2 separate regions of the Homo sapiens genome follow, and region 2 is linked to region 1. Evidence: fine-mapped expression QTL. A gene starts in region 1. The other region holds a variant in brackets. All regions are shown on one strand. Distances are from middle to middle. Region 1 holds the start of MVK (mevalonate kinase). Region 2 has its middle 33 kb from the start of MVK.

Evidence for each region.
Region 2: its variant is fine-mapped to the expression of MVK in anterior cingulate cortex (GTEx, PIP above 0.99).

The regions. Positions count from the first base shown.
Region 1 is chr12:109,569,328-109,579,548 of GRCh38, reverse strand. MVK (mevalonate kinase) reads right to left here and starts at 5,755. Exons shown (of 11, transcript NM_000431.4): 1 at 5,676-5,755; 2 at 4,649-4,740; 3 at 3,404-3,551. The coding sequence starts at 4,726. It overlaps MMAB (metabolism of cobalamin associated B), which reads left to right and starts at 6,045. Exons shown (of 9, transcript NM_052845.4): 1 at 6,045-6,202; 2 at 7,839-7,900. The coding sequence starts at 6,069. RefSeq lists silencers at 5,515-5,744, 5,765-5,894 and enhancers at 5,654-6,153, 6,154-6,655.
Region 2 is chr12:109,598,374-109,614,905 of GRCh38, reverse strand. No RefSeq gene overlaps it. Among named protein-coding and RNA genes, the nearest start is that of MVK, 33 kb to the right of the region's middle. RefSeq lists enhancers at 3,181-3,681, 15,689-16,378. The variant C/A (reference allele first, on the strand shown) is at 7,793.

The DNA.
Region 1 (10,221 bases):
CAACAGTGCCTCTTCTTACGGTTGTCAGGAACGTAAAGTTAAATAAGGGGTGTAAACTTTTTAGCACAGCACCTGGCATGTAGTAAGTGCTAATTAACAGTAGTTTTAAGGTTGGGTGCAGGCGCTTATGCCTGTAACCCCAGTACTTTGGGAGGCCAAGGTGGGCAGATCACTTGTGCCTAGGAGTTTGAGACCAGCCTAGGTAACATGGCGAAACCCCAACTCTACAGAAAGTACAAAAACTAGCCAGGCATGGTGGCGCACACCTGTGGTCCCAGCTACTCAGAAGGCTGAGGCAGGAGGATCGCTTGAGCCCAGGAGGTTGAAGAAACAGTGAGCTGTGGTCGCACCACTGTACTCCAGGCTGCATAACAGAGTGAGACCCTGTCTCAAAAAAAAAAAAAAAAAAAATTGTAGTCTTAAAACAAACACACACAGACACACAGACACACACAGAGAATGCTGGCTCAATCGCACAAGGGCCTAGGTTTCACCTTCCATTGTATAAAACCAAAATCAAAAGAGTGTTAAGTTAACCCCCAAAATATTTCCCTCCTCCAAAAGATAATCATCAGGAATAGGACAGTGTAAATGCGAGGCGGTGCCTGGGCAGAAGGGGAAGGTGAGGCAGGTTGTTCCCAGGGATGTACAGGAACCTGGGCCACTTTCCTCTGAGACACTGAGAAGGCAGAGCCTTTCTGGCCAGCTCACCTTTACAAATCACTCGCTGAGCCTCAGGTCACATTCTCAAGGGACTGGGAAATGGAATTGGGCATGCGTGTGTTAGGAAACTTCGGGCACTGGTTAAGTACTGGGTAAATGTGTGTTGAATGGATTAATGATATACTCAAATGGCCAAGTCATGGCATCATTGAGAACCCAGGTATTTCAGAGCTTTGTAATCGAGATGGAACAGCTGTTAAGAGCCTGGACTTTGGGGCTAGGAGAAACCTGGGTCTGAATCCTTTCAGTGTCACCAACAAGTGTAACCTGAGCCACTTGACCTCTGAACTTTAATTTTCAGATCTGTACAATGGGGATGAATACCACCACCTACTTCCAGGGAATGCTGGCGAATTCTAAGAGTGCTAACATATGTGAACACACTTAGTGCCTGGCACACGTAAGTGCCCAATAAGTGTTCACTGTAGTAGCACGGTGCAGTGGTATGTGCTTATATTCCCAGCTACTCGGGAGGCTAAGGCAGAAGAACACTTGAGCCCAGGAATTTGGGACCAGCCTGGGCAACATAGTAAGACCCTGCCTCTTAAAAAAAAAAAAAAAGTTCAATGTTTATTACTATCAGGAGGGAGCAAAAGGACACTGAAAGAAAGATGGTAGATCTTTGCAACCTAGAAGATAGTATGTCTCCCAGAGCTCCAAAACTAACAAGCCCTTCCCTACATAATGCACTCTGTGTCGCACCCCTAATGCCTGCCTCCAGTGTCGTCGGATCCTCATGGCAGCCCTCAGTCAGGAAACATGTCTCTGCTCCGAGGCCCAGAGGATGAAGTGACCTGCCCCAGGTTCACTGAGGGAGTTGGAGTGGTCTGAGACATGTTCCCCCATACCTGGCTGCTTCCACCCCAAGCTACTGACATACACAAGTTGCAGCTGGTTCTCAGGAGACATTTCTGGTCTGGCTGGGTGGCCCTGTGCACCTTGGAAAGCAAGTTCCATGTGCTCTGGCTGGTTGTTTTCAGATGCACGCTCCAAAGGAGTGGCTTTTAACTGAGGTGTCCCCAGAATCACCCAAGGAACCCCTTTCAAAAACTCCTACCACCACTACCAACTCCCAATAAGAGAGGGGCGGAGCCAGGAGCCCATCCATCTGTATTGGTTAAAAAAAACCACCACCACCATCACAAAAAACTCCTGGGTGATTCCAAGATATGATGAAGTTAAAAAGGGCTGCTCTAAAATGAGGATTTTGGCTGGGCACAGTGGCTCTCACCTGTAACCCCAGCACTTTGGGAGCCCAAGGTGGGAAAGTGGAAAACTGCTTGAGCCCAGGAGTTCCAGACCAGCCTGGGCAACACAGTGAGACCCCATCTCAACAAGTGAAATGAGAATTTTCAACTCTTCCTCCATCCCCATACGGCATATGGGAGTGACTGTGGTTTCTCATGGGGAATGGGAAGCAGGTGTCAAGGGTTCAGGTGCAGTGTAAGGAAAAAACCCAAAAAGATTCTCATTTACCCCATCCTGGCTGAGAAACACTGTTCCAAAGAGCAAGGCTTCATTCAGCCCAGGGAGCAGACAGTAAACTGACAACAGAGAAAACACACGTCAGCTCTGGGGCAGGTACAGGGGACTCCACTGATGGAAAAAGCTGGCCTGCTTATGAGTGGATGAAATCTTCACAGTGCTGTCAAAAATCAGCACACACACGTGACACACAAAGAAAAAATCAGTACTTCTGAATGGTTTATATGGCCTGACCCAATTTTGGTTAAAAAACCAAGATATCTCCCTGTCTCTATCAATCTTTCTATCAATCTACAGAAAATCACCCAGAAGGATTAATGCCTAAATGCTTAGAGTCATTACTGGGGTCAGGGAAAGGAGAAGGGAAATAATAGGTGATTTTTAAAATTACAATGTCCCAGTATTGACTATATTTTCCAATAATAAGCATAGGTAACTTGTACTTTTATTAAATTTTTTTTTTTTTTTTTGAGATGGAGTCTTGCCCTGTCCCCCAGGCTGGAGTGCAATGGCGCAATCTTGGCTCACTGCAACCTCTGCCTCCCAGGTTCAAGCGATTCTCCTACCTCAGCCTCCTGAGTAGCTGAGATTACAGGTGTGTGCCACCACACCCAGCTAATTTTTGTATTTTTAGTAGAGACATGGTTTCGACATGTTGGCCAGGCTGGTCTCGAACTCCTGACCTCAGATGATCCGCCCGCCTTGGCCTCCCAAAGTGCTGGAATTACAGGCATGAGCCACTGTGCCTGGCCTACTTTTATCAATTTTTAATTATACAAAATGCCAATATATTCTCCTTATTTAAAACATGTGTCACTTTGTCTACTCTCTGGCCCTAGGTCTCTCCCAGGAGAACTAATCACCACTGCCAATCTGATGTCTATGCCCCCGAGACCTTTTCTATCATTTATACACATATTTATACTTAAATACGTATGTTTGCTGTTTTGCATTTTTTTCACTCAACAATAGGCCTTGATGATCTGTCCACAACAGCCCACAGAGATCCAATGCATTGTTTTACACCTATAAATTTTAAAAAAATAAAATGAGTGAAGCTAATTTTATGAGGTCAGGGTAGAAAACACCCGGGAAATAGCTGGCCCCTGGCTCCCTTGGGGACAGCCCAGAATACCTGGCCAGCTGCCCTCTCTGTAGGCTCTTAGCACACCTGGTTTCTCCTCCTTGCACTCACCCAGAAAGCTTGTGTCCAGTGACTGAAGCCTGGCCACATCCCAGGCCCGCTTGATACCAATGTTGGGTAAGCTGAGGTCCACTTTCCCATTGCTGTGGGGTTGAAGCCGGAGGAATGTTCTCAAGTTCAAGGATACAGCCAGTGCTACCTATAGAATAAATGACAAAAGCAATAAGCCTGAGGGTGAGTGGCAAAGGGGCCAGGACCCACGTGCTAAGAAGAGAGCAAACATAAGCACAGAGGCCACTCCTAGCCATGCCCTTGCCAGACACTGCTAATCAACCTTGGCATGCTCTCCCACTAAGCCTGGGAACAGCCACCATCGATCAGCTAAAAGTTAAAATCCACTTTGCCTTCTGCCTGCAAAATTTCAGAGGTTCTCAATACCAAGGAATCACTTCCCCATAATCACCATGTTTTCAATGAGAAATATAAGAACATAAAGAATAGCAGTGAGAAGCCAGGTGTGGTGGCTCATATCTGTAATCCCAGCACTTTGGGAGGCCAAGGCAAGAGGATCACTTGAGCCCAGGAGTTTGAGACCAGCGTAGTGTCAGACCACGTCTCTACAGAAAAATAAAAGAAAAAAATTAGTGGGGCATGGTGGTACACACCTGTGGTCCCAGCTACTTGGGAGGCTGAGGTTGGAGGCTGCAGTGAGCCATGATCGCAAGATTGCACTCCGGTGACAGAGCAAGACTGTCTCAGGAAAAAAAAAAAAAAGCAGAGTGCAGCAGAGGTGGTTTCAGACAGACTTAGGTTCACACCAAGCTCTACCAAGGTATATAGGACTTGGATCAAGTTACCACTTCTCTCCTAAGCCTCAGTTTGCACATTTGTAAAATAGGATAATAAAAGGGTATGCCTTGGGGGTAGCTGTAAGGGTAAAATGAGATAATGGATGTTTTCAACTCCTTTGCTAGATCATCCTTCCAACTTCTAAATGTCTTAGTGCCCCGGAGCTCAGTTCTCAAACCTCTTTCCTTCTGCATCAAAGCTCACTCCTAGGTGATCTCATTCCACTCACAGGGCTTTATATTATAATCATCTTTTTGCTATCATACCGAGCGAGGCCCAAGAATCCCTTCAGTGGGCATAAGAAATCTTTTCCTTGCCTGGCTGGGGAGAACCTGATCTCTCTGATCTGCTCCCAAGCTGTGCCTCAGGGTGTCCTTTTACCTTCTTACAAAATTAGCATCAGGGAGAAGGGGTACCCAATCCTTAAAGGCTCTAACGGCTTTGTACCTTGCCATGTACCACGGCATGTTCTCCATGAAGGATGACTTTCCCCGGAGCAGACACCAGTAGGACTTCTGACAACATGGCTCCTGGGAATCCTAAAAGGGAAAGCCAATGAGAAGAGCAAAGATCTCTAGATGTCAGAACCAGCAGGAAGAGATCTTAGAACACCTAGTTCAAGCCCATCATAATAACAAAAAAGGTAGTTACCGTCCAGCACTTGCTACGTACCAGAAAGGCAATGCAGGAGTCAACTGGACACATCCAACAGATCTGGGTTCAAATGCCAGCTCTTCCACTCCCCAGTGATGTCATCTTAGTTAACTCACTTAAATGGCTAAGAACCTCGGTTTCCCCACACGTTATATGGAGAGAAAATAACCGTACCTACCTCGGTGGATGTTAGGAAGGTTAAATTAACGCAAGGGAAACACTTGGCGGTGTCTGGCACCTACTAATCATTCAATTACTGAGAGCTACTTATTACTGGCTCTGTTCTTCGTTTCAGCTTTTACAACTACTACTATTAAAGGTAGAAATTACATGAAATCATGGAGCAGAAAGAACTCTTTGCTGGACATTTAGGCTGTTTCCAATGTGTCACAATTATAAACAAGGCTGCAGAAAACACCCAGTACGCCTCGTTTTGCACACTTAAATGAGTATTTCTGCAGGACAGAGTCCTAGAAAGGAGCTTGCAGGGTCTATAGGTGTGTGCAATTTACACTTTTATACATAACGCAAAATTATCCTCCGCTTAAGGCTTTACGTAGATTACCTTACGCTAAGATTCAGGTGTACTATGAGCTAAGTACTATCGTGATCCCCATTTCTTAGAAAAACTGAGGCTCAGAGCGGGGAATCCCCTTGCTTGTCAAGCTCAAAATCACGACTGTCAGATTGAGGTCGCCGATCCCTCGGGGCAAGACTCTCAGAGCTGGGTAAACTGAGCCACAGAAGCTGGACGCCTGGCTCAGCGTCGTCCTGGGTCTAGGACCTCGCGCCGCCCGGCCGCCCGACCCCGGCCTCTCACCTGCCGCCGCCGCCGCCTCCCCGGCCGCCGCCCCTCCGCGCCGAAGCCGGAGCAGCTCCCCAACTCCCACAACCCAGAGCGCCCGTGCCTCAAGGGGAGGAGGCGTTGTACTTCAGGCCAGCCAATCAGAGCGCGCGAGCCCGGAGTACCTTTACCAATAGGCTTGAACATTGGTCAATAGGTGTTGCAGCCAAGCCGACACGGGTTTTCCCGCCCCGCTCCTTCCGTTAAACCAATGGGAAACAAGTCCCTGGGAGTGTCCCGCCCTGGGGTGAGAACTGCGAACCAATAAAAATTGAAACCTGAGCGGTGGCGCGGCCAGCTGTGGGTGGAGTCACCCCGCGGACTGGACGGGAACCTGGCGGGGTCAGGTCCCGTCAAGCAGCCTGGCTCATGGCTGTGTGCGGCCTGGGGAGCCGTCTTGGCCTGGGGAGCCGTCTTGGCCTGCGCGGGTGCTTCGGCGCCGCCAGGCTCCTGTATCCCCGTTTCCAGAGCCGCGGCCCTCAGGGCGTGGAAGACGGGGACAGGTGAGTGGCTGGCGGGAAGGGCAACTCGAACACCTGCCGTGAATCGTGGTGTCGTCGCCATGGGTACGTCACACCGCCGTGAGGTCACCGCGGCAACCGTCAGGTGACGTCTCCACGCTGTTCTGACGTCACCATGGCAACGTGGGCCACGTGGGCGCCAGAGACCAGGTAGTCTTTGCCTAAGTCCCAATGAAGTCCCGCTATCATCGGGCAGGGCAGGGCATATCCCATGTGGGCCAGGAGGGCTCTCGACTCAGATTGTGACCAATCTCCAAAGCAGTTTATTCCCCAGGTCCCAGATACACCAGCACCTTCTAAAGATGGCTTTCCTCATATTCCTTGAAACTTGCACCTCAACCCAGACCTCAGAACCTCTAGAGTACCGTGGATTAATAATGGATTAATTTAGTTCACAGATCCAGGAAATTAACCTTCGAATGGGCTTGTAATGTCACATTTTAATTTTGAGCTATGTCCTTGAGTTGTTTACATTGTTTTTTGAAAATGCCACTTTTTGAGCTGTATTTTGGCAATTCTTCATCTCTGAGTACACTCGAAGCCTCATACTATGGAAGTGGCTCAGGTTTCTTTTCCTGCAAGAGGCCCTGAGTTGGTGGAGTATAAGATAAAAATTTGGGTAGGATAGAGTTAAGAGTCCTAGCTACTTGGGAGGCTGAGGCAGAGGATCACTTGAGCTCAGGAGTTCAAGGCTGCAGTGAGCTATGATCATGCCACTGCACTGCATTCCAGCTTAGGCAACAGAGCAAGACCCTGTCTGTGAACAAAATAATCATAGGCCAGATACGGTGGCTCACGCCTGTAATCACAACACTTTGGGAGTTTGAGGCAGGAGTATTGCTTGAGCTCAGGAGTTCAAAACCAGCCTGAGCAACATGGTGAAACCCGTCTCTACCAAAAAAAAAAAAAAAAAAAAATTAGCTGGGTGTGGTGGTATACACCCGTGCTCCCAGCTGCTCGGGAGGCTGAGGTGGGAGGATTGTTTGAGCCTGGGAGGCAGAGGTTGCAGTGAGCCTAGATCGTGCAACTGCATTTCAGCCTGGGTGACAGAGTGAGACCCCATCTCAAAATAATAATAATAATAATAAATAAATAAATAATTTCGGTAGGATAGAAGTTACAGTTTGTGCTCTGGTCTAGGACAGTTTTGGGCATCCCACTCCTGCCTCTTCTTGGATGGTCTAGGAAGGTGTCTCATCTGAGCCATAGTTTCCTCCTCAGTAAAATGAAGAGAATAGGTGTTGGCTACCTTTGGGGTTGTGGAAAGATTCCAGGATAATTCCAGAAGATAATGCCTGTAAACTACTTGGCACAGTGCAGGGACAATGGCAAAGGATCAATCAAGTCCTTCAGCAAATATTTATTGAGCATCTTTGTTGAGCAAGGCATTACATCAGCTACTCTACACACTCTGTCATCCAGCTCTGGTCTTGCCCACAAAATGTTTGCTATTAGAAAGGATCTAGGGGAAAGAAATCAACAAGAGATGACCATCTAAGCAGTAAGGGGTAAGTGCTGCCTCTGAGGTTACAAGCAGCAAGCTGGGACCCTCTGAAGGAGCTGACCCTCTGTGTAAGCCATCCCCACTCACCAGATACTGATGTTTATTTCTCATTAGGCCACAGCCTTCCTCGAAGACACCCAGGATCCCCAAGATTTACACCAAAACGGGAGACAAAGGTAGGGTGGGGACAGGTGAAAAATGCAAAGAAATACTCATGGCATACACCATTTTAAAGTTCTTCCAAATTCTTTGCAGCCACTTTAAAGTATAATATACCAGGCGCGGTGGCTCATGCCTGTAATCCCGGCACTTTGGGAGGCCCTGTTGGGCTAATCATCTGAGGCCAGGAATTTGAGACTAGCCTGGCCAATGTGGTGAAACCCCATCTCTACTAAAAATACAAAAATTAGCTGAGTATGGTGGTCCATGCCTGTAACCCCAGCAGCTACTTGGGAGGCTGAGGCAGGAGAATTGCTTGAACTCGGGAGGCAGAGGTTGCAGTGAGCCAAGATCATGCCACTGCACTCCAGCCTGGGTGACAGAGCAAGACTCCATCTCAGAAAAAAAAAAAGTCTCAGAAAAAAAAAGTATGATATTTGACAGATCTCAAAATATGTTACAAAAATGTAATGTGAAATGAAAAACACCCAAGAGATATTAAATGACAAAAGCCTGAATCTGTCTGGATAAGCATGTACATATATGTGTGTTCAGGTGTGTGTAGAATAGTCTGAAAGGTTACACCTGGGACTGTTCTGGGAGAGAGATTAAGTTGTGAGAGGGGAACAAACAGAAGGACTTTCACTATTTACATACTTTTATTCTATTTTATTATTTTTTATAATGAGTATATATTACTTTAATAGTTTTTAAAATGCTAGAACATGTTATATAGAAAAAAGTAAGATGCAGAAGAATGCGTTGCTATGATCCTTTTTTTTTTTTTTTTTTGATACAGGGTTTTACTCTGTCACCCAGGCTGGAGTGCAGTGGCTCAGTCATGGCTCACAACAGCCTCCACCTTTCAGACTCAAGCAATCCTCCCACCTCAGCCTTCTGAGTATCTGGGACAACAGGCACACATCGCCATGCCTGGCTAATACTTTTTAATTTTTTTTGTAGAGATGAGGTCTTGCTGTGTTGCCCAGGCTGGTCTTGAACTGCTAGGCTCAAGGTATCCTCCCAGCTCAGCCTCCCAAAATGCTGGGATTACAGGAGGCATGAGCTACCGCACCAAGACAGTATACCATTTTTTGTAGTACAAAAGCATGCAGACCACTAGTATGTATTGTTTTTTGGATATATACTTGTATAGTAAAAGTATAAAAGCATGTACGGGACATACTCAGTGCCACTGAATGGTAAACTTAAGAAGGGTCAAAATGGTAAAATTTCTGTTATGTATCATCTGTTACCACAATTAAAAAGAAGGAAGAGGATGTTGGAAAGGACTTATTGTAGGGTTGGGCTTGTGTTGGGTGGTTACAAGGAAGTGGGGCTTTGTTCTGGATTGAATCCTGTTAGGAAGCAGGGCTGTTTCTGTCACTGGGTATCTTTTTTTGTTTTTTGAGACAGGGTCTAGTTCTGTTGCCCAGGCTGGAGTGCAGTGGCACGATCTCAGCTCACTGCAACCTCCTGGGTTCAAGCAATTCTTATGCCTCAGCCTCGCGAATAGCTGGGACTACAGGCATGCATCACCATGCCCAACTAATTTTTTCTGTTTTTAGTAGAGACGGGGATTTGCCATGTTGGCCAGGCTAGTCTCGAACTCCTGGCCTCAAGTGATCTGCCCACCATGGCCTCCCAAAGTCCTGGGATTACAGTGTGAGCCACTGCACCTGGCCTGTAATTGGGTATGTTAATAATTTGTTTCTAGAAGACAGAAGGGACAAAGAGGTGCTAACGCTGTAATGGATAAAGATGCAGCAGTCACTCACATTAGCCAGGGAAGGGGGAGGTTTGGTCATCTTTTGGAGTTTGGACACAGTCGTCTGTGCTCAGACGTTCTTCCGCAGTGGCCTTGTCTTGGTCTCGAACCGTCATAGTCATAGAGTGGCCTGTCTGATGGTTTTCTGTGAAATGGTTTGTGTTCAGCAGAACACCACAGTCTACCTGTGAGTGCCAGGCCGGCACCTGGCAACCCCAAAGCCTGCCCGATAGCGAAAGCCAGCTCCAAACTGTCAGGGGCAGTTTTCACTTTCTCAGAGGTTGGGGGAGAAAGGCGGGACTGTGAGCTAGGCAGAGGCACAGAGGACTTTGACTTCATGTGAAATATAATGGTAATGTATATATGATATAAAATATAGAACGTGTTGTATTTCTTTATCAGGATGGTTAGTATGTGGTTTTTAAGTTGAAAAGCACATCAGGAAAGAAGTGAGCATAGTGGCTAACCCTTGGGGAGTGGCAACTAAAAGGGGTTACATGGGGGCTTTCAGGGTGTTGCTCATGTTCTGTTTATGAAGCTAGGTGCTGATCAAGGAGGTATATTCAGTTA
Region 2 (16,532 bases), 32 kb before region 1:
ATACTAATTTAAAATATGACCTCTACAGCTAATAACAGCAACTCCAGCAGCTAACGCTAAACGAGGGCTTTGCCACATTCCAGGTACTGTTCAGAGTGTCTGATAGGTACTATGATTAGTCCCCTTGTATAGAAAGGGAAACTGAGGTTCTGGCCTGAGGTCACACAGCGAGAGGCAGAGCCCCAATCTCTGCTCAGTGTGTAAGAAGCTGATCACCACCTCATGCTGTGTCACCAGGCCCAGGTGAGTGTCCTGCATAGAGCAATGTCCAAGGAGCCAGCTCTCCACTGTGCCCATCTTGGAAGCGGTAAGGAGGTGGGGGTGGGTGTCAGGGGTGGGACAGGGCTCAGGGGCAGCACCCAGGGCTTTCCTCTCTAAGTCCCCTTGTCCCAAAACTCAGGGCCTTCCTCAAAGAGCCCGAGGGAATTCTCCGGCTGGGTAAACTCAGGGTCCCCAGGAGCCTCTCCAGCCCCCACAGTCATTAATCATAACTGAACTCTCCTGGATGAAGTTTCCCATCCCTTTGGGGTTTCTGTCTCCCAGTATCACTTAATATATACCCTCATCGGGCCATATATACCTGCTCCTAATAAACCTCTATGACTTTAATGAACTAAATAGCAAATTACTTTTTTATTCAAGAATGAAATTTCATCATATTCATAATTCATATTTTATTTCAGACATCTGCTGCTGATTACATTACATTTAACTAAAATTAGATGATGCTCAGAATGCAATTAAGACTCTGCCAAATTCTTCGGCCCACCAATGCCGGCGGAGCGCAGCGGGGGCCGCGAGGAACCTAATATGTAATTAGGAGCTATTTTCTAGCTGTTTTTAAAGTCTGAAAATTAGCTGCCTTTATTAATCACACAGACAAATATAAAGTGGAACCAACGCTCGCTGAAATTTCTAAAAGGGATTTTTTGTTTAATTATACACCGCAGAGCGCTGAGACTCGTTCTGCATGTTGATTTGTTGTGCACTGACATTTTGACAACTGGTTCTCAATTTGTCTGTCGTAGTTAGGCAACAACAAAGCCGACGGTAATACTTTAACTTTCAAAACCTTCAGTGTGCCGGGGAGAGGGAGAATGGCATTCCTCACTGCGGGCCCGCAGCTTGGGCTCTCGAAGGCAGAGACACGGGGAGAAGGGCAGGTGAGGGGCGGAGGGGACTCCCGGGACGACGCCAGCTGGGGAGGTGGCTGACATTCTGGATCGGGAGTTACAGGGCCAAGGAACAAGCCCCTGTTCTGCGGGGTGGCTAAGTGGAAACCCTCCCTAATCTCTGGGCCTCAGTTTCCTCCTCTGCACCAAGAATGGGCTGGAGTCTGAGATCTTCAAGGAGCCTGTAGATGCCAAAACTCTGTCTTCTTTTCTCTGTGTGCTAATGTCTTCTGTGTAGCATCATTTGTCCCCTCGGCCTTAGCAGGGGGATGTGATTTTTTTTAGAGACTGTCTCACTCTGTAACCCAGGCTGGAGTGCAGTGGTGTGATCATAGCTCACTGCAGCCTCAAACACCCGGGCTCAAGCAAGCCTCCCTGCTGAGTAGCACCGGGGCTACAGGTTCGAACTCCCCCGCTCAAGCCAACCTCCCTGCTGAGTAGCTGGGTTACAGGTGAGAGCCACAGCACCCAGTCTCCAGAGGAATCCTTTATTATCCCAATGTGCAGAGGATGCAACTGAGACTCTGAGACTCAGCAACTTGTTAACCAACCAGCAGGTGGCCACACCAGAACTCAAACATGGAGTTCACTGACTCCACAATCTGTGGTTCTAACCACTGTATCCACCTCCCTGGCTCAGGAGCCCTGAGCAAGGGACAGCTCTCTGGGCCTCAGATTCCCTTCTGTGATGCTTGGATGTGGTAGAGTGGCACCCAGCCCTGCTGGGGGCCAGGGACAGAGTACACCAGCAGGATCACAGCATGAAGCAGGATTGAGCCCCACACAGGGACCCCCAGTCTCAGTGGAACTCCTGAGCTCACCCCATTCCCTTGGAGGTTCCTTAGGCCACCCTGTGGGTGAAACTACCCAGTGATGTCCAGAAAGTCCCAGGACAGAGAGTGACTGCCAAGGGGCCCAGATTCTACCCCATGCCCAGACAACAATAACAGATGGCTTTTTGTCCCATGTGCCTAGTACTCTGTTGACACTTTATTACCAGCGGGCACAATGGCTCACACCTGTAATCCTGGCACTTCAGGAGGCCAAGGTGGGAGGACCACTTGAGCCCAGAAGTCCGAGGCCAGCCTGAGCAACAGAGAGATCCCGCCTCTAGGAAAAATTAAAACTTAGCTGAGTGTGGTGGTGTACACCTGTAGTCCCAGCTGCTTGGGAGGCTGAGGTAGGAGAATCAATTGAGCCTGGGAGGTAGAGGCTGCAGTGAGCCGTGATCGCACCACTGAACTCCGGCCTGGGCAACAGAGTGAGACCCTGTCTCAAAAAAAAAAAAAAATAATATCACCTACACTCCTTCCACTAACCCTCCAAAGTGGATTCACAACCAGGCTTGGAGTCTCACAGCCTGGATTCAAACCCAACCCCTGCAATTTGCCTGCTGTGGTAACCTTGGTCGGGCTGCCTCAGTTTCCATATCAAGAAAATGAAGAGCTTGAGCACACCCACCTCTCTCGGTTCTGGGGAGGACTGAACAGGATAATTGGGTGTGTGGCCCAGATCAAGCCCTCAGCTGATGGAAGGTTCCTGTTACCACCCCATTTGACAGACAGGCACATTGAGGCTCTGCAGGGAGAAGTGCTTGCTCTGAGGTGCCTGCCGCCAGGTGGGTCTGATGCCACAGCCCATGCTCCTACCCCACCACCATAATGCCCCCCTAATTCCCACCAGGGAGGACTGGGGAAGGGCCTGAGGACCCACTGTGCAGTCTGGGCTGCCCCATCTGGCCATTGTGACCATCTCCAGGGGCTCTCAGGGTGTTTTTACCTTCCGTCTCTCACTTCCTTTTTGCTCCCTGGAGAGAGTGCCCAGCAGCTTTCTGCAGGAGCCAAGGCATGGCAGAGCCCACCACGGGGTCTTTTGCCCCTGCTGACTCCAGCCCAGTGGAGCCAGCACCATGACCTGCCCAGGCCTGTTTTTAGGAGCCAGCCCTGCCTCCTCCTCCTGCCCACAGACCCATCTGATGAAAACGCCAACGGAGAAAAGGAGGTTGTTTTGGGTGACAATGAAACTGCCAATAAAATCTCAAACGCAGAGATAGGCAATGACTATTTCACTTATTCTGACAGTTTGAGACTTTGCTGGGGAAGGGAAGTGACAGGCACCTGCCGACATCAACACCACTTCTTTCGGAGAACAGCCCGTGGGAGGGGGCTTCCCGGGAGACCTGCCTTGCCCAGATGCCAAGCGGGCTGTGGCTGCTGCTGTTGGCAGCAGGGGCTGCGGTCACCCACGGGGAGAGACTGGACACTCTGACTCTATCCACAACTCCCCTCTGGCACAGACATATGCCAGGCTCTGGCTGGAGACCACAGAGGCAGAAACAACCAGCAAAACCCCTGCCCTTAGGGTTTGTTTTGTTTTTTTAAGACAAGGTCTGGCTCTGTCATTCAGGCTGGAGTGCAGTGGTGCAATCTCGGCTCGCTGTAACCTCTACCTCCTGGGCTCAAGCCATCCTCCCACCTCAGCCTCTCGAATAGCTGGGACTACAAGCATTCATCACGACACCCAGCTAATTTTTGTATTTTATTGTAGAGATGGGGTTTCGACATGTTGCTCAGGCTGGTCTCGAACTCTTGAGCTCAAGCCATCCTGCCATCCTCCCATCTTGGCCTCCCAAGTAGCTGGAACTATAAGCGCTTACCACAGTGCCTGGCTAATTTTTGTATTTTTTGTATAGATGGGGTTTCACCCTATTGCCTAGGCTGGTCTCAAACTCATGAGCTCAAGCAATCCTCCCACCTCAGCCTCCCAAAGTGCTAGGATTACCCACATGAGCCACCATGCCCAGCCCCTTAGGGGTTATTGGGAGTGGAATCGTGTCCCCCACAAAGAGATTTTGAAGTCCTAACCCCGGATCCCCATGAATGTGACTTTATTTGAAAATGAGGTCTTTGCAGATGTAATCAAGTTAAGATGAGGTCATGAGGGTGGGCTGCTGTCCTTATAAGAGGGAATGCCATGTGAAGCCAGACACACAGGGAGAAGGCCATGTGTCAGCAACAGCCAAGGCTGGAGTGATGCAACCGCAAGCCCAGGACTGCCAGCCACCACCAGAAGCTAGGAAGAGGCAAGGGAGGGTTCTCAGAGGACCCAGTGTCTCAGAGGGTCCCTGGTCCTGTCGACACCTTCATTCTAGACTTCTGGCCTCCTGAACCATGACAGAGTAAATCTCTGTTGTTTTAAGCCACCACATTTATGGTACTTTGTTATGGGAGCCCTAATTAGAACACCGTTATAAAGGGCTTCCATGCCAACTAGGGCATCGGCAAAAGAGGCCCCACCTCCAGCTGGAGACTATCAAAAGAGGGGTATATGGCCGGGCACAGTGGCTCATGCCTGTTATCCCAGCACTTTGGGAGGCCGAGGGGTGGGGGATTGCTTGAGCCCAGAAGTTCGAGACCACCCTGGGCAACATAGCAAGAACCCCATCTCTACAAAAAAAAAAAAAAAAAAGTAAAAAATTAGCCAGGCATACTAGTACATGACTGTAGTTCCAGCTACTTGAGAGGTTGAGGTGGTAGGATGGCTTGAGCTCATGAGTTCAAGGCTGCAGTGAGCTGTGATTGTGCCACCACACAGCAGCCTGGGTGACAGAGTGAGAACCAGTCTCAAAAGAAGGGAGCAGGGTATACCCGCTCCTTGAACAGAGTGACAAGGTGGACTCCAAAACTGAAAGGCTGCTCCAGGCACCTACAAAATCTTCCTATCTGTCACCTCCTCTCCATCTGTCCCTAATGCCACTGCCCCTCTCCAGCCATTGTACCTCTCACCTGACTCCTTTCCCCCTGCCCCTCCATTTATCATGCCGCAGCCAGAGAACTTTATAAAGCATCATTATGACCCCACCATCCCTGCCTAACACCCACCCTGGCTCCCCAGAGCCCTCAGGATAAAACTTGCTTTATGTTGGCCTCATACTTACTGTAGGTTCCAACTGAACACAGAACAGCGTTTGGATTCTCTGCGCACACCACGGTATTGCTCACTTCAGTGCCTTTGCTGCCTCAAATGCCCTCTCTTACCTTCTAGCCCAGCCAAAATTCCACCAAGGTACCTCTTCCTCCAGGAAGCCTTCCTTGATCCCATGCCAGGCTAGGAAGAAGAGGCACCCCTCTTCTTCCCTGTTCCCATGGTAACTCAGAATCCACTGCTCTTCACTGTCATCATCAGTTTGCTTAGCTTGCTCTGCCCTGTAAGCCCTGGAGGGCAGGGAAGGGTTCATCTGAGCTCAGGCAGTACCTCCACCGGATACCTCCGCCCCAGCCACACTTGGCCCTTGGCCAAGAAGCTGGCCCTTGAAACAAATGCTGGCTCAACCATCAAGACCCAGGCCAGACCACCTGCTACTTGTGACACTCTGTGAGTGTGACACTCTGCGAGTCCAGGGCTGGAGAAGAGGAACTGACTTTGGGATCAAAGGCTCTGCGCTTGAGCCCCATCTACCTGCTGGCTGGCCTTAGGCATGCTGCTTCCTGTCTCTGAGCTTCATTATCTTTGTCTGTGAAATGGGAACAGCAAGACCTACAAATATGGGGCTGAATTGTAGTCATTATTAATGATTATTATCATCATCATAATGATCAGTTCATTGTAATTGTAATGATTATTTTGTGGGCTTCTGTTTCCAAATCCATGTATCTTTCAAGGTTGCCTTCCCTGCCCAACTGCTCAGACTTGTGAGTCACGCATGCACCCTGGGAGAGTACTCAACATTCCTATATGTCATTGAATTCTTGTAACTCTTTACATATTTATTTGATATTCTTGTAACTGGATGACATCTCCCTTACCAGCAGGGACTGTGTCATATTTCAGGGGCTCTTGAGAAACTCAGCACCTGCTGCTTGATAGATGTGTGCCCTCCCTGCCCACCCACGCCCTATATCGATCTGAAACACCCCAGGGCCAGGGCCTTGAGTTGAGGAAGAAACCACAGGGTAGAGGTTATAAACTGGATGAGAGCTCAAGCAGACCCTTGTTTCCAGCCAGCTCTGCCCCTAGCAGGCTGTGAGACTGAGGTTCAGCCACTTCACCTTTCTGAGTCTCAAATTTCCCTTCTGCAAAGTGGGGCATAGAATACCTACTTCTCAGGACATCGGGAGACAGCGCACACCAAAGTGTCTGGCACATGGCAGATGTTAGATGAATGAGCAGATATTGAACCTCAGAGTCCTGGGGTTGATCCCAGCTTCACCCCTTCCTGGCTGGGTGATGTCAGGCACACCCCACCACAACTCTGACTGTCAGGTTTCTCTTCTGGGGAATGGAGAGCTCTTGTGAGAATGAAATGAGGTCATGGGTGTTAAGCCTGGCACCAGTGTGTGCAGTAAGTAATGGCTACTATTTCATTGCATTGAATTGTAGAAATGTTCAGACCTGCATGTCAGGGCCAGTGCCCCCACACCCAAGATCTGTGAAACGGAGTGAGGGAGAAGATGCAGACGGGACCTGGCAGCATGAGGCCCTTCCCCAAAATAAGGACATTTCCTAGGCCTGGGGCCTTCCAGCCCATCACCTCAAAGTACTCACTAGTCCCCTGAATGCTGAGAGGAAAGGTCTATAAAGGCCCTTCCTTCCCTTTGAGTAAAGCAAGGATAAGAAGAGAAGCATCCACACCTGCTTTGGACCAGCACCTGACCTCCACCTATTCCAAGACCCAGCAAACCCCTTTGGAGGGCTGGGCAGGTGGCCTAGGGAAGCCAGATGTACTGAGCTGAGCAGGATGGCCATGTTGCAGGCAAGGGGGCCTTTGTCTGTCTACTTCTCTGTTCATTCATTCATTCCTTTATGCATCCATTCATCCAGAAAGACTCAAGCTCTTAGCATGAGCCAGGCACTGTGCTAGACTCAGGGGGACCGGTGAGTGGGCTCCTATGTGTGCCCTCAGGAAGGCGCAGTTTCCTGAGGAGACAGGCGATGCAACAAGTCAACAACAGATGGCACATTTGGACATAAAGCAAAGGGAGAGATGGAGGGCAAGAGGGGAGAACTGCATTAGGAGGAGGGTGGGTCAGGGAAGGCTTTTGGAGGAGGTGAGTGGTAAACTGAGGCCACATGCCAGCCAGGTGAAGTGTGAGGGTGCGGAGGAGGTGTGTGTGTGTGTGGCGGGGGTGGGGGGGTCGGGGGGATGTTCCAGGCAGAGGGAACAGCAGAGGCAAAGGGCCTGGGGTGGCACTTGTTTCCATCTCCATCATCATCACTGTCATCAATGCTCCCATCTAGCCAGGGCTCCCTGTGTGAGCACCGGGAGGGACTCCATGTTCATTTTTCTCTCCTGCACCTGAGTGTGGGCTTCTGGAAGGCAGGCTGGATCAGCATGGCCCACCACTACCTCCTCTGTGACTCAGCACAGCACCCAGTGCAGAATCGTCACCCCGTCCCATGCGCTGAGTGAACATGCACAGTGAATACGCAGGCCCTGTGTTCAGTGCCCTGCCCCTGCCTCCTCGCTTTATCCCCACAACCACCTGATGAGCCGGTTCCTCGTCTCCATTTTTCACATAAAGAAACTGAGGCTGAGAGGCAATGTTGCTCACCCAAGGTCACACAGCCAGCAAGTGGCAGAGCTGAGATTCGAACCCAGTTCTATCTGGGCTCTTCTGCTC[C/A]ATTGCCCAGGCCCTCAGGCCCCTGGATCAGGAAGTGGTGGGGTTGGGATGGAGGGGGAGCACAGAGCAGGGCCCCCAGCCCCCTGCTTCCAAAGGAAGCAGGTCCGAGAGGGAAGGTATGGCCAGCCAGCTCCATAAATAACCCGGGTCCCAGGGCCCTGCCAGCAGTTTGGCAGCCGGAGAGAGAGTGTGTGTGTAATACAAACAGCACTAATCCCCTGTCAGTTAAACTGGATATCAGAGGAGACAAGCTTCCGAGCGGGGCGGCCTAATTGAATCGAATTGAAAAGGCGGAATGGGCGGCCGGGCAGCCAAGGAGGGCTGCCGGGGAGCAGAGCGGGCGGCTCGGCGCAGCTGTCTGGGCCTCTCCGCTGCCCTGGGCCGGGCGGCATTCCAGCCCCCACCACAGGGAGCCAGGCTTAGGGAGCAGGAATCACAAGAATGGGGGGGTGCACCCCCAGCGAGGGTGCTCCGCCCCCTCCGGCCTCCCCTTTATCTGCTGGCTCTGCCGTTTTCTCTCCATTGCTGACCCTTTTTCTGCTCCCTCTGTTATCTCAAATAATGTCACTGCCTCTTTAGAATCTAGTCATCAGAGCAGAAAGAAGTCCGTGCTGACACTGATAAAAAAAAATACCATCTGTGCCTCCCGGGGATGAGCTCACAACCCAGCCGCCGGTGCCCCTGCCGCCCCGCCACCCGCAGGCCTGCTGCTTCGTGGGGCACTGAGGGGTAATCAGATTCCAGGGGGGGCCCCACCCCTGGGGGTGACCCCCATGCCCCAGCTCACTCCCCAGAGCCAGAGGGGCCCGGCTTCTGAAGGTCTCAACCCTGGGGTGGTTTCCATTTTGCACCCGGGCTTGACATAATCATTTGTTATTGTTTAAAATTTGGTTTTATTACTGAACGGTATTTAAAAATCAAATTTTATCCACAACTCCAGATTTCTGAATTCTTTTTAAAAATTAAATAGAAAGGTTTGGATGGTGGGTTCACCACCCTGCAGGGCAACAGCTGGCTGGAGCTGGGGCCAGGGGCCTGCCGCGTCCTCCCCAAGCCTGGCTTGTGGCTGCCTGCCTGGTCCCTGGAGGCTTGTGAGTTTGAGACCCCTGAGCAGGGAGAGGTTATCAGAGTGATGCTGAGATGCAGGCGGGGAACAAGACCAGGCCACGGCCCCCGGGGGCTTCTCATGGGTCTGGGAATAACATCTCAGATATGAAAAGGAGACCGAGATCCAGAAAGGGGAAGCCACTCACCTAAGTCACACAGCATTTAGAAATGCTGGCTCCCTGCACAGTGCTCTCCTCAACCACACAAGGCAGGTGGGGAGGTGGGGAGTCCCGATCCTGGCCTCGCCACACACCTTCACCCTACTCCTCATCAAAGCCGTGACTCTTGCATCCACGTGCCCTCAGCCCTCCGTGGAGCCAACTCTGGTCAAAACTGACTACTGGCATCAGCAGAGGTACTAGCATCTCCCAGGGCCAGTGAGGACACGTTAGCAGCTCTCTTGCTCTTTTTCCTGACCTTGGGATGCCCCATCTTGACCCAGCACCCTCAGCCATTCAGAGCCTGGGTTTGAGTCCCAGCTCTGCCACAACCATACTGCGTGACCCATCTCTGTGCCTCAGTTTCCTCATCTGCAGAGTGTAGGTCCTTGTAGCTCTATCGGGGAATGATCTTGATGGACCAACGTCCATCAAGTGGTGGATGTGTCTCTTTGAGGCAGATGGTAGGAGATGGTAACGTGGGGCGAGTGAGAGCCGCTCTGATGCCTGCCAAGGACAAGGCCAGCTGTGTGCACAAAACATCCCTTGCCCAGTGAAGTCAAAGGGGAAATGGAGCAGATGTGGCTGTCTTGACAACAGAAGGCAGGTGCTCGGTTCGAGGGGAGTCTCTTCCTCCAAGGTTGTGTCCTCCAACTTCCAGACCTGTGATCATCACTGGCTCACATTGTGGTCTCAGGCAGCCCAGCCAGATCCAACTAGTTGCTTAAGTCCCTCAGGGCTGAAAGGGGTGGCTCTTCCCTCTAATCTCCCTCTGGGGACAGGACATGTCAGCAAAACCTAGCCTTGCCTAGTGATGAAAGGGGAGGAGGCCCCAGGCTTTAGAGTCAGTCCTACTGGATTCAAATCCTGGCTTGGCCACTTCTGAGCTGTCGCGTCGCCTCTCTGAGCCTCAGTTTCCCCCTCTCTGATAATAACAATAGTTCCTATCCCCCGGGTGCTGAGTCTAAGTACTAGGTGCCAGGCTACGTTTTATTTATTTATTTATTTATTTATTTAAGATGAAGTCTCGCTCTTTCGCCCAGGCTGGAGTGCAATGGCGCGATCTCAGCTCACTGCAGCCTTGACCTCCGGGCTCAAGCAGTCCTCCCACTTCAGCTTTCCAGGTAGCTGGGACTACAGGCATGTGCCACCATGTCCGGCTAATTTTTTTGTATTTTTGGTAGAGACGGGGTTTTGCCATGTTGTCCAGGCTGGTCTCCAACTCCTGGGCTCAAGGGATCTGCACGCCTCGACCTCCCAAAGTGCTAGGATTACAGCATGAGCCACTGCGCCCAGCCTGAGCTATGTTTTAGATGTGCATTATTTCCTAGTATTTCTACTTTACTGATGAGGCACCTGAGGCTCAGAGAAATAATGTGACCTGCCTAAGGCCCCAGAGCTGGAAGTAGTCAGGCCACAGATCAAAGGCCAGATCTGTCTGAGCCCAGAGTCCACAAAATACTGATTGCTAGGAGGATTAAATGAGAGCATCGGAGCTTCTGGCAGAGTAAACAGACACCATTATTTCAATGGATGGGGACAATGAGGCCCAGAGAGGGCAAGAGACCTGCCGGAAGTCACCCAGCAAGCCACCTTGTCCTCTTTCATTTGGTTTTCTCCTTGCCTTCCCCTCTCCACATCCTGCTCACCTCCCTTCTCCCACAAATGCTCACCTCCACATCTGGGGCCAAGACAGCCAGGGTGACACAGGAGAGCACTGTGCTTGGAATCTAGAGACCTGTCTCAGGGCCGAGCTTCTGCACCTGATGACTGCATGACTTGGAGCAGAGACTTCCTCTCTGGGCCTCAGTTTCCTGCTATGTAAAATGGGGTTCACCACACTTTCCTCCTGGGCTCGCCATGAGTATGGGCGGAGGAAGTGACACGAAAGCCTCCGGAACCACGGCCAGCATGCCGAAGCGGGGCAGGAGCAGCTCTGGTCAGTCACCTCACTTCCCTGGGGCCTGGCCCAGTTCCTGGCATATAGAACGTGTGCATTTAACATTTGCTGAATGGATAGTGCTCATGAAGAAGGGGCTGGATCCTGCCTGCAGTGGCTGTGGAGTCTGGCAGCTTCTTTCTTTGGGCAGGGAGGATGCCCATGTGCCTAGGACAGCTTCGGTGCCCCTTCAACATCCAAGGGGGCCACCGTGGCCTCAGCCAGTGCATTACCCAAATGCCTCAAAATGGATATTTTCCTGATCAGATTTAAAATATGTATAACAGCTTGGGTGCAGTGGCTCACGCCTGTAATCCCAACACTTTGGGAGGCCGAGGTGGGAGGATCGCTTGAGCCCAGGACAACATGCCAGCCTGGGCAACATAGAGACCCTGTCTCTACAAAAAAATAAAACACATAGCCAGGCATGGTGGCATGAGCCTGTGGTTCTAGCTACTCAGGAAGCTGAGATGGGAGAATTGCTTGAGCCCAGGAGTTCAAGGCTACAATGAGCTGTGATCACGCCACTGCACTCCAGTCTGGGTGACAGAGGGAGACCCTTTCTCTAAAAAAAAAAAAAAAAAAAGAGAGAGAGATTAAAAAACAAACGAAAAACCACGTATAACAGACCCTGTTAATCTGAGTGAGGGAGCATGGAGGTTTGGGCTCAGATGCCTGTAAAAGAGGCTCAGTTGGCATTCCGTCTCTTACCCTCTCTGTGCAAGTAAGTGGCTCCCTGCTCTGTGAGCCTGAGTGTGGTGAGAATCAATGCGCTCAGGCCTCCCCCATGCCCTCCCTAGGTCTGGAGGGAGGCAGGGGCTGGTCTGGGAGGAGAAGGAGCCCCCTCCCTCTCCCTCGGGCTGTGGCCCCCTCATTGCTTCCCTGGTTTTTGGGAGGAAACAGAAACCCCAAGAGAGTCCGGCAGCTATGTCATGGACCTGTCACTTGGCCACTTTTCTGCAGCCTCGTTTGTCACATTACAAGGTTTATGGTGGAAAAAAAATAAGACAGAAGACTCTGGTTTGACTTAATAGCTTGAGCCAGTGTACCTGGGACCCGGGGCCCCTTGCCCTCACGCTGCACCAGGCAGAATGGCGTCTCACCCCCCACTGGCCAGTACAGAGCCCTTTCACCCTGAGCGACAAAGAAGGGCCCTGGTCAGACCCTGCGGTGCAGGAGGTCTCGTCCAGCTAGACTGACAGGGTTCAAACCTGAGCACACTCCCTCGGGTGAGCCACTGAGCCTGTCTGAGAGCATCTGTCTGCTTCTCTGCAAAATGGGGAAATAATTCAGGCCCACAACCCAAGACACTCTGAAACCCAGGGCCTTGGCATCAAAATTCATTTGTCAGCAAATGCAGCAGGCTGGGCATGGTGGCTCATGCCTGTAATCCCAGCACCTTGGGAGGCTGAGGTGGGAGGATTGCTTGAGCCCAGGAACTGGAAACCAGCCTGGGCAACATAGCAAAACCCCATCTCTACAAAAAGTAGAAAAAGAAGCAGGGGGTGGTGGCGCATGCCTGTAGTCTCAGCTATTCAGGAGGCTGAGGTGGGAGAATTGCTTGAGCTTGGGAGGTCGAGGCTGCAGTGAGCTGTGATCTTGCCACTGCAGTACAGCCTGGGCAACAGAGCAAGACCCTGTCTCAAAAAAAAAAAAAAAAAAAAAAGGCCAGTGCCACATAGGCTCACATATTATTTATGGCCTTCACTCGACTTAGTGGGACTCTTCGTACCTTTCATATAGAGTCAGGGGTTGGTGGTGCTGCCCCAGATGCCACGTGGAATGAAACATGGGCCGGGAGGGGGTCTCCCTAAAACCTGCAAAATCCTCCATTCCACATCACATCTGGCCCCAGGATTTTGGACAAAGAATTGTGGTTCTGTTGTACCTGGTCTGCAGGGTTGCTGTGGGAAGTAAGTGGAATGATGCCTGAGGGGTTTAGCACCCTGCCTGGGATGTTACATTTGAGGAAACTGAGGCCGAGTTGGGGGTACAGAGGAGTCCCGGCTGGAAGTCACGCAGCCAGCAGGTGCAGAAGCTGGGCCTGAAGACGGATCTCTGGATTGCAAGTGCTTTTCCTGTGACAACCCTGCCGCATGGAGAAAACCAAATGGCAAGGAAGAGGACAAGGTGGCTCACTGTGTGACCTTAGGCAATCTCTTGCCCTCTCTGAGTCTTGGTCTCCGCATTCACAGCAAACGAGGTGATGGACTGTGTGATCTCCAAGGGTCCTCCTGACCCTGACACTTTTGGATTCAAGCAACTGAAGCATTCATTGGGAGACCATTGCCCTTGTCTGTTTCAGTTTTGAGGACATGAGGTGTGAGGTGTGAGGTTCGGCCCAGTGCCAGGTTTTCCTTGGATATGGGGAGGTGGGGGCTCCGGGCACAGTGCTGTGAGACCACACATCATGTTCTTTGGCAGGTTGCTCCCTTTGCCTGTTTGTTGTGTAGGTTGGGGGTCTGAGGTGTTCACAGCCAGGGCCAAGCGGGCAGCAGGGGTGAGCTGGGCCAGCACCGCTGGGGCAGATGTGACAACTCAGTTCTGTCAATTAGGTATGGTGGGGAGAGGGAGCTCGGAGAGGTCACCAGTCACCTCCCCGGGGAGAGTCTAGACACGGGCTAAGAGCAGGGCCCTGAAGTTACACAGAACTGCGTGCAAATCCCACTCTGCCACGTGACCCTGGGCAAGTCACTTCCCTACTCTGGGCCTCAGTTTACTCACCAACAGAATGGGGATAAGCACGGTAATTAGCTCAATGGACTGAAATGATTCACAGGGATAAAGCACACAAAGCACTTAGCACCATGCTGAGCACATCGTAGGTGCTCAGTAAAGGGTTCAAGACCTCCCAAAGCCATGTGGAGGGGCTGGATTCTGAATGACCAGTGTAGAAGACACAGCATTCTGCAGGATGATCCGCTGGGTCTCTTAAGCAAGTCATATCATGGAGAAAAATAGGTATGAGTGTGTGTGTGTGTGTGTGTGTGTGTAGGGCTGCTGTGCTAGATTAAAAGAGAAGCCAGGGCTGTAACAGCCAGGTATGTGGTATTAGACAGGGTGCCGGACACCTGGCCCAACTGGAGGAAATGTGACTATAGCCTGGGCATTAGAGATGAAACATATTGACAGAGAAAGGTGACTGGAAACCAAAAAGGTAGGTAACAAAACAGCATGTACAGTATGATCTCACTTTATCGAACAGCATGAACACACACACACACACACACACACACAGAGGGAAAGGTGGCAGCTGTTCACAGGGGTAATCTCTGTATGGTAAAAACACAGTGCTTTGATGTGATTTTTGCTAATCTGTATTTTCTTTCTACAGTGTATTTACACTGTTTCTGTAATAGTAAAAATATTATAATTTGAGAACTAAAGAGCTCAGACTAGGAACCAGAGCTCCTGGCCTCAAATCCAGCTCTCTGCCCCTTCCTAGAAGACAGTAGGTGCTAAGAGACAGCCAAAGAACTTGTCCAAAATTAGCTGGAAACCAGGAAGGGCTGGGGAAGGAAGCACCTGCGAGGTGCGGGCCCCTGAGCCAGGTGTCTTCCAAAGGGCGCTAGCTGAGGAAACAAGGAGGAAAACAGCCGTGGAGGAGAAAGGAGCTGGCTGGGCCAAGCACAAGCGAAGGGCAGGGCCGGCCCCCCACCACGCTTGCTGACCTGGAGCCAGCCAGCCAACGCGACTGGCTGCCAGCAGGCCACAGAAACCTTGGTGAGGAAAGACTCCTCACCAGGCCAAGTGTGGTGGCTCATGCCTGTAATCCCAGCACTTTGGGAGGCCGAGGTGGGCAGATCATTTGAGGTCAGGAGTTCGAGACCAGCCTGGCCAACGTGGCGGAAACCCTGTCTCTACTAAAAATACAAAAATTACCCAGGCGTGGTGGCACACACCTGTAATCCCAGCTACTTGGGAGGCTGAGGCGGGAGAATCACTTGAACCTGGGAAGCAGAGGTTGCAGAGAGCCAAGATGGCGCCACTGCACTCCAGCCTGGGCAACAGAGTGAGACTGTCTAAAAATAAATAAAAGGACTCCTCACTGACAGAGACGACATCAGTGCAACCATAGCAGCTACTCTGTCTGGAAAGAACCACAGTATTTCCTGCCTGCCTCCCAAAGTGAGACCCTTGCCAGAACCAGGGAAATTCTCTGAGAACTTCAGGCTGCAGACCCTGGGAGCGGCTCCAGCTTATGACCTGAAAGGCACTGCTGTTCCCCTCGCAAAGAAGGTGTCAGTGCTATGTGACCGCCTCTTTGCAGAGGAAGCAGGGAGGTGGGAAAGCCGGTGGGCCTTAGGTGTGTTTCTCCAACAGCGACCCAAGGGGTCTCAACCTAGGGGCTTTGGACCATCTGGGCAGGGCGCCTTGAGCCAGCTCTGTGCACCATTCTGAAGTTTTGGGGCTCTGGAAGACACCCTTATCTCTCAGCATAAGACAGTTATAATAATGAGTATTTATTGAGCACTTACCGTGTGCCACGCACTGTGTCAAGGGCCTTCTGTATATTTTCTCATTGATCCCCACGAAACCTCCATAAGGTGGGTATTAGTGAATCCCACTTTCCCGATGAGGAAGCTGTGGCCTCCAGAGGTAAGCTGTCTTGCCCAAGGTCACATGGCCAGGGGGTGGGCAGGGCTGAAGTGCTCAACCACCACAATGGCGTGCAGAGATGACCCTGGGGTCATCCAGTTCGGTATCTTCAGCCCTGGCTGCATTTTCTTATTTTTTAAAAATATTTTTGAGACGGGGTCTCACTCTGTCATCCAGGCTGGAGTGCAGTGGCACCATCATAGCTCACTGCAGCCTCCAACTCCTGGGCTCAGGCGATCCTCCTGCCTCAGCGTCCTGAGTAGCTGGGACTACAGGTGTGCAGCACCATGTGGTGCTTGGTCACACGTTAGAATCACCTGGGAGCTTTTAAAAGATGTCTTTTTAAAAAGATACCGCTGAGACAGATTAACTCAGAATATCTGGGGTGGAGTCAGGAATTCGTGGGTCCTTAGGTGGTTCCGAGGTGCAGCTCTGAGAGCGAGAACCACTGCAATAGGCAATGAGAAGGGGTGACAGCCGCAAGTGCCAACTGTCTACAAGGTAGCCAGGAGTGTGACACCAGGCCCATATGGTGGCCGCAGGGGTGGCTGGGTTGAAAGGTTGCTCTGGCCAAAGCGCACCGGCAGCTGCTTCACTGGAGCAAGAGTGTTGAGCTGGCCCCTGCCCCAGGAGTGACATCCTGTCCCCAGGGAATGAGAGAGAGAGGGCCTCAAGGAGCAGACGGGCTCTGGGGGTCTCAGCCTCTGTCCCCTGCACCCATCTCACAGCTGCCGCGGACATCTATGGAAGCCTGGGGAGGCTCCCAGGCCCACCTCCTAAAGGCTGGAGGCTGGCTGTCAGCCAGCGCCATCACTGAGGGCACAGCAGCCTCTGGCCTGGTTGTTCATTAAAATCGCGTGGGGAGGAAAACATGCAGGTCCGAGCCCCACCCCGGTCAAATACATCCGAATCCAGAAAAACGAGCCTGAGCACAGAA